Homo sapiens: one gene and its partner. The protein of the gene in region 1 interacts with the protein of each later gene in a pairwise test. Each region holds a gene or a part of one and is shown in the gene's direction. Other genes may lie near its edges.

Region 1 (3,749 bases):
TTCTTATTTTTTTAATTTAATTTTTTTTTGAGGCAGAGTCTCACGCTGTCCCCCAGGCTGGAATGCAGTGGCGCAGTCTCAGCTCACTGCAAGCTCAGCCTCCCGGGTTCATGCCATTCTCCTGCCTCAGCCTCCCGAGTAGCTGGGACTTCAGGCGCCTGCCACCACTCCCGGCTAATTTTTTGTATTTTTAGTAGAGACGGGGTTTCACCATGTTAGTCAGGATGGTCTCAATCTCCTGACCTCGTGATCCACCTGCCTCGGCCTCCCAAAGTGCTGGGATTACAGGAATGAGCCACTGCGCCCGGCCTTTTTTTTAATTTTTTTGAGACAGAGTCTCACTCTGTCGCCCAGGCTGGAGTGCAGTGGTGAGATCTCGGTTCCCTGCAATCTGTGCCTCCTAGGCTCAAGAGATTCTCCTGCCTCAGCCTCCCGAGTAGCTAGGATTACAGGCACATGGCACAACACCCAGCTATTTTTTTTTTTTTTGAATTTTTAATAGAGACAGGGTTCCACCATGTTGGCCAGGCTGGTCTCGAACTCCTGACCTCAGATGATCCACCTGTCTCAGCCTCCCAAAGTGTTGGGATTACAGGCGTGAGCCACTGCACCCAGCCTTACATTCACCACATCTTACCTGACCCCACACCCCCAAGTGAGAACCTGGGCCAGAGACTTGGGTTTCACCTAGACATCTTCCTTTCCCTCGCTAGCGCGACACTCACCATGCTTTCCATATATTCTCTCAAATGTCTCTCCGTGTCCCCCTTGACACTGTCCCTGTCTTAGTTTAGTCTCCCCTCGCTTTCCTAATCCTTTTCTTACCCCTGCTCATGACTTTTTTTGACTCTACCCAGTAGTCTTGCTCCCTCCCACCCACCCTCCACACAGCAGGCAGAGGGGCCTTTTTTTTCTCTCTCTCTTCTTTTGAGACAGGGTCTTACTCTGTTGCCCAAGCTGGAGAGCAGTGGCCTGATCATAGCTCACTGCAGCCTGCAACTCCTGGGCTCAAGCGATCCTCCCGCCTCAGCCTCCCAAGTAGCTGGGACTACAGGCATGTATTTTTTTTTTTTTTTTTTTTGAGACGGAGTCTCACTCTGTCGTCCAGGTGGAGTGCAGTGGTGCAATCTCAGCTCACTGCAACCTCTGCCTCCCGGGGTTAAGCGATTCTCGTGCCTCAGCCTCCCGAGTAGCTGGGATTACAGGCATGCACCACCATGCCCAGCTAGTTTTTGTATTTTCAGTAGAGATGGGGTTTCACTGTGTTGGCCAGGCTTGTCTCGAACCCCTGACCTCAGGTAATCCGCCCGCCTTGGCTTCCCAAAGTGCTGGGATTACAGGCGTGAGCTCCACCGCGCCCGGCCCAGGCTACGGATTTTAGCTTTTATGTTCATTGTACCAGGAACTGTGTAAGTGCTCATGTATATTTATTGAGTCGATGAATGAAGCACCAATTGTCGAATGACCTTGAGGACTCCTGCAGGATGCTAACGAACACACTTCTCAGCCGGACTGAGCTCCATCATCCTGCCATGCGGCTCACCCCACCTGCGTTCTGGCTTCATTCCTGTCTCCATGCACTTGCTTAAAGTCGTGCCGGCGTCAGGATCTCCCTTCCTACCAGCCAGGAAGCTCTTCCCTCTTATTTTCCCCGCTCCTCGAGGTAAAGGTGCGCACAGAGGGGCCCCCAAGGCGTGACTGGAAGGCTTGTGGGTCGCTATGGTTACTGCATCCGCCCGGGGCGGGACATCCCCAGGACGCCCAGCCTCTAGGGGTGCGAGGTGGGAAGCTCTGGAGCGGCCCAGCGCAGGGGCGGGCAAGCCAGGAGGCAAAGCGGTTTCCTCACGCCTCCACCCCACCCACACAGTTGTCAAGGAGACAAAGCGCTTCCCTTCAGCGCTGTCTCCCTCCCCTTTGGTTAGAGGGCAGGGTGGGCTGGAAGACTGTCCGAAAGGTTGGGTACTGGCGCGCTCCCAGCATCTCTCCCATCCAAGCTCGCAACGCCTGCGCCGAGACCCGGTACCGGGTACAACCCGAGGCACGCGCATGCGCGCGATGGAGTTTTTGCGCGTGCGCCGTTGTGGCCCCAGGAAGCTGGGGTACCCGCGCGGCGCTAACGTTGCGGCTGCGCAGTTGCGGCCTGCTGGTGGGGCTCGGCGGAGCGCAGTTCTGCGCCTGCGCTGTGCTGGGGTAGGTGGGAATGAAACCCTGGCGGTAAGGGCATTGGGGCCGACTGGCCCTGGGCGCGCCTGCGCCTTGGCATGCGGGGCGGCCGGAGGCGGGGCCGAAAGAGGGGAGGGAGGGAGGCGGGGGGTGGGAACAGGCCGCAGAAGCCCGAGCCCTGACCCACCGGCGGCTGCGGCGGAGCCGGTGAGTGACCCGTGGCCCGACTCGGTCCCCACCCTCCGCGACCTTCGCTCTCCCTGCCGTCCCCCGTAGCCTCCGTTGTCTCCTTGTGATACGGGACCCCCGTTATTTCCAGAGCTCCCCTTAATTTCTGGCAATCCCCAGAGCCCCCACAATCCTCGCAGACCCTGATCCCTAATATTTGATCGTTCCAGCTCTTCCAGTGATACAGGAGCTCCCACCTCACCATTATTCCTGGACATCCCTCTAAGGGCCCTTCTCATATCGGTCTTACAGACGCCCCGTTGCCCCCTAGAGCCCCTAGAGCGCCTCCTCTGCTCCAGATTCCCCCCTTCTTGCTGCATCCCCCCTTCCGCATCTCCTTATCTTCATGCATCTAAGACCCCCCCGAGGCACCCCCATCCTCCCTCCATTTCCTATCCTCCCGTGCCCCCATTCTCTAACTCCTGCAGACACCTCCTCTCCTCGCACTTTTCCTCCTTTCCTTCCATCCCTCCAGACCCTCCCCCAATTTCTATCAACTCTTCAGCGTGGCACTTCGCGCCGCGCGAAGTCCGAGCCAAGCGCTCAGCCGGTGTCAGCTACTCTTAGGCGCTTCCGACTTACCCGGGTGCCCGTCGCCCCCGCCCGCCCCCCGCCCCCACTCCTGCCCCCGGGGACTAAGGAGCTCTCGGCCCGGCGGTCTGGGAGAGGCGGCGGCGGGGGGACCCCGAACCCCAGCCAGCCCCGTGCGCCCTTTGCCCGCAGCGCCGGCGCCCCCCATGCGCCAGACGGCAGGACGGCGGCGTCGGGGGGCGCCATGGCCTCGGCGGCGGCGGGCGAAGCGGAGGAAACCACCCGGTTGCGCAAGCCGCGCTTCTCATTCGAAGAGAACCAGATCCTGATCCGCGAGGTGCGCGCCCACTACCCGCAGCTCTACGGCGCGCAGAGCCGTCGGGTGAGCGTGGCAGAGCGGCGGCGCGTGTGGGACGGCATCGCCGCCAAGATCAACGGTATCACCAGCTGGAAGCGCACGGGCCAGGAGGTGCAGAAGCGCTGGAACGACTTCAAGCGCCGCACCAAGGAGAAGCTCGCTCGCGTGCCGCACTCCACGCAGGGCGCCGGGCCCGCCGCGGAGGACGCTTTCTCCGCGGAAGAGGAGACCATTTTTGCCATCCTGGGGCCAGGTGTGGCGGCGCCGGGGGCAGGTGCTGGGGCGGAGGAGCCCCCTGCGGCCCCCTCTTCACAGCCGCCGCCCCCAAGCGCCTGCCCTCAGCGCTACGTGTTGTCGGAAGACCGCCGGGAGGACCGACGTGCAGGTGAGTGTCTTCAGAGTAGGCTGTGTGCCTGCGCTGTTGCAAGCCTTTTACATGTCTCATCAAAGCCTTGCTGCAGCCCTGTGA
Region 2 (3,749 bases), on another chromosome or scaffold:
CCTCACACTTGCATTCCGGTAAGGCAGATGTTCATGTCTTCTCTTTTCAGGAAGGCAGCTGAGGATCCCAGCTATCTAAGCTTTTGGGCAACTGAGATTTAATTTGAAATCTCAGGTCTTCTGTCTCTGAAGAGGTTGTTCTTTCTTATTTTGGCTTCCTAAAATGTTGGAATGAAATACTTCTCACTTGCTAACTTCAGACCCTGCAGAAATCAATATAATTAGTATGATTGTTTCCAACTGACTTAAATGTGTAGGAAATAGTATATATCCTTTAGGAAGTTTATCCTGATTTTTACAGAAAGTTTCTGTCTGCACTTGCCTTCTTTGAAGAAGCAAACATTCACGGTAGATTTATCTTCCAGGATTTTGATGCTGAGGCCAAGAGGCAGTTTTGAATTAAAGCCCTCCTGTGACTAGTGTATTAGTTTAATAATCAATGCATTATGATAATGAAGCAGTTTATAGATGAGGTGTAGTCGTTCTTTAAAAATTCAGTGTTCGTAAAGATTGATCAACTTCCTAACTGAATTACTCTTTTTCTTTCTTGAGCTAGGATGACAATAAGAGATATACTCCTGTCTGGTATACATTGGCTTTTATATTTTTCCAGACTTGTGTTTCATCGTGGGCACTGATTGCTGATTTTATTTTCATTTTACCAGAATAACTGGTTCTCCTCCTCCACCTCCTAAATGAATTTGTTTCCCGAATATTTATTTATTTATTTTTTTGAGACGAAGTTGCCCAGGCTCTGTTGCCCAGGCTAGAGTGCAGTGACACAATCTAGGCTCACCGTAACCTCTGCCTTCTGGGTTTGCGCGATTCTCCCGCCTCAGCCTCCCGAGTAGCTGGGACTGCAGGTGTGCGCCACCATGCCTGGTTAATTTTTGTATTTTTAGTAGAGACGGGGTTTCACTGTGTTGGCCAGGCTGGTCTCGAACTCCTGACCTCGTGATCTGCCTGCCTCAGCCTCCCAAAGTGCTGGGATTACAGGTGTGAGCCACCGTGCCTGGCCTCTGAATTTGTTTCTCTAACAAAATTAGTGGTTAATGTTTATTTGATGTTAAAAGTCAGTCAAAGAAAATAGGCTTTGGGATCCCACTCCGGACCCCGCCTTGGTGCCTGTAGGGTGAATTGACATTGCAATTCTTGCCAAGGAGAGGTTAATTGCAGATGAAAGTGGTGTTGCATGTTTTATATTTGCTAGTAGGGGATGTGCTGACTCTTACTAAAAAACATCTTTAGAAATGTCTTATGCATTATAATTTAATCCAAGTCTCTGATATTGGTTTGGATGGTTTTCAATACAAGCCAAGTAACCATTAAATAAGATTACATAACACTGTATTTTTAATTATCTGATATAATGTATGGATTGGTGGCTGGCTCACTGCCAAGTTACATTTAGTTGTCGTTGATTACAAGAGAAAGTGGAGCTGAGGATTCAAGATTAAGGTGGTCCAGATTTGTGTCTAGGTTGATAAAAGTTTTTTGTTTGTATATCAAAATGGTTTTTATATCAGTTTCTCAAATATTACAATTCTTAGCATTACTTAGAATAAATATGGAGGATAAAAATATATTAAGGAAGGATTATTATTTTATGTACATCTCTTTGTAATCCACAAAACCCAGGGGCTTAAAACTTGATTTTTGGGGACCCCTTTTGGAAAACATTTCGGATTTGCTTGAATGTCACAGACTTGTAAAGTAGAGAGTAAGAATGAGAACTGCAGAACTGTATTTAGGTATGGTGCCTTCATGCTATAGTTTGTGATTTTCTGTTTCATCCAAAGGAGGATGTGATTATTTAGTTTTTAGTTTTTTATTGTTTTTCTTTGTGTTATCAGTTTTTTTTTTTTTTTAAGAAAATGCGATCACTCACAGTGTTAGATATGCCATTTCTGAGTTTTATACAGTGTATTATGATTAAAAGTGACCCAGTGATTGTGAGTTACAGGGTTTTGGTATTGGACATTAGTAACAGGCTTATAGAGAACCTGCCATGCTGGTTCTCTGTGTTGGGTCCCAGGGGTAGGGAGGAAAAACAGTCTGCACTGGTGAGAAGCTCCTGCTCTCCTCTGTGTGCGTTTGAGAATGAATTTTCGGTTTGTAGATGCCCTCTTTCCTAAGGAACATCTTAGTCCTTCAACTATGCTGAAATATTTAATGATTGGATGGCTTAGATTTACTGTTAATAAATCAGCTTGTGGACATTTTTGAGGCACTTGTTGGTACTGGGTCATGTTTGTAATCTCGATACTGGTAACAGCTCAGAGATGGAGAGGTTATTAGCCTAGTTTTTCAGTTGTAGAAACCAAGATTCTGACAGCTAAAGTGACTTGCCCATGGTGACATGCTTATAATAAAATGTCAGAGTGAAGGGTCAAGCTTTGTTCTTTTACAGGTCCATTGTTCTTTTTACCATGTCCTACTGACTCTCAGTAACACTGAGAGTCTAAAGGGCTAAGTTACTGGCCAACCTGTGATGGTATAATTAGTGAATGATAGAAGGAGAATCAAAACCCTGGCTTTTTTATGTGCAGTTTGTTTTTCCTCTAGCCTGTGCTGAATTGAAAGATAAATTATATAGCATCCATTTTCATACTTCATTCTTCACATTTCTGCCCTAAGATAAGTCCTCTGACCTTTTTCAAAATGGGTTGGATTGCCTGTTTTCTGGTGTCACATAACACCTGGTGCTCTTACGGTGTGATCCTCATCACACTGCTTTGTTTGGATCTTTGTCTTTCTTGGTAAAGAGTGAGTTCCTCGGAAGACAGGGCCTGGTCTTTCCTCTGTATCTTCAGCACCTAGCATACGTCTGAGCACAGGGCCCTTGGGAACTCCTGTCTTCATTTCAGTGTTACGTGTTAATTATCATTAAGGGTAGCAGAATCAGAAAGTATATTTGGAATTTAGCAGTCAGTAAAGAGCTTTGCTTCTTACAGCTTTAGAGGACCTGAATTGGAGGTGGGGATGAAGTCAACAGTTCTGCCCATATCAATGAAAGAAGGTTCTGAGTGAAATGCAGGGTTGAACAAGCAGAAAAGCATCCCAGTGCTCTTTAAATGTGGTTGCACAGTAGGGATCCTTCTCTAGGAGATAATGAGAAGATGTTGTCAGATCTGCTTTGAATCAGATGTTTATTTACTTTTATTCTTTCTTAAGGAATTTATGAAATCACTGCACTCTCATCAATTTGCTCTCCTTCTCTAAACTCCTAATGATATTTCTCATGACAGATTAAAAACAGAATTTTGGAAGCCCTAGTCACATGCCAAATAAGGTTTCTTACCTGAGAGAGTTATCCGCAGTTTCAGATGCCAAAGGGAAACTCCGAAAGCCAGAGGAGCGATTGAAACCGCAAATTGAGTGCCAACAGCAACTTTGATATCAAAAGCCCCATTTGCCTGTTGTCACCAGTCCCGCTGAGTGAAGATAGAATGACTTATATCTTCTACCAAAACAATAGAAGGAGAGTGTTCCTTGGCGTTGGGGATGATGATTATAAAAGCCACCAATTTGAGGCTCTTCCGTGCCAGCTGCTTTCTGTGCATTCTCTCCCATCCCCGCAAGATCTTGCAAGGTAGGAGGTTTTATTCCCTGCGTGCCTCCTTTATTTTTTTCAAATGAGGCCTCTAAGGCTCAAAAACACTAAGTAACTTGCCCAGTCAAGGTACACAGCTTATAAGTAGTCAGGCTGAAATTTTAAACCAAGTCTGCAGTATTTTGTTAAGATACTT

Evidence for each region. Proteins that work in one complex are often made in the same cells at the same time.
Region 2: the proteins of MYPOP (region 1) and KHDRBS3 interact in binary tests that used the Homo sapiens proteins (3 or more experiments, as listed by UniProt).

What each region holds. Positions count from the first base shown.
Region 1 is NC_000019.10:45,901,191-45,904,939, reverse strand, and holds the start of MYPOP (myb-related transcription factor, partner of profilin), read left to right. Parts: upstream 1-2,326; 5' UTR 2,327-2,370; intron 2,371-3,114; 5' UTR 3,115-3,166; coding exon 3,167-3,665; intron 3,666-3,749. UniProt on the Homo sapiens protein: Transcriptional repressor; DNA-binding protein that specifically recognizes the core sequence 5'-YAAC[GT]G-3'. Dimerization with PFN1 reduces its DNA-binding capacity.
Region 2 is NC_000008.11:135,460,385-135,464,133, forward strand, and holds part of KHDRBS3 (KH domain-containing, RNA-binding, signal transduction-associated protein 3), read left to right. Parts: intron 1-3,248; exon of another isoform or gene 3,249-3,504; coding exon of another isoform or gene 3,505-3,592; intron 3,593-3,749. UniProt on the Homo sapiens protein: RNA-binding protein that plays a role in the regulation of alternative splicing and influences mRNA splice site selection and exon inclusion. Binds preferentially to the 5'-[AU]UAAA-3' motif in vitro.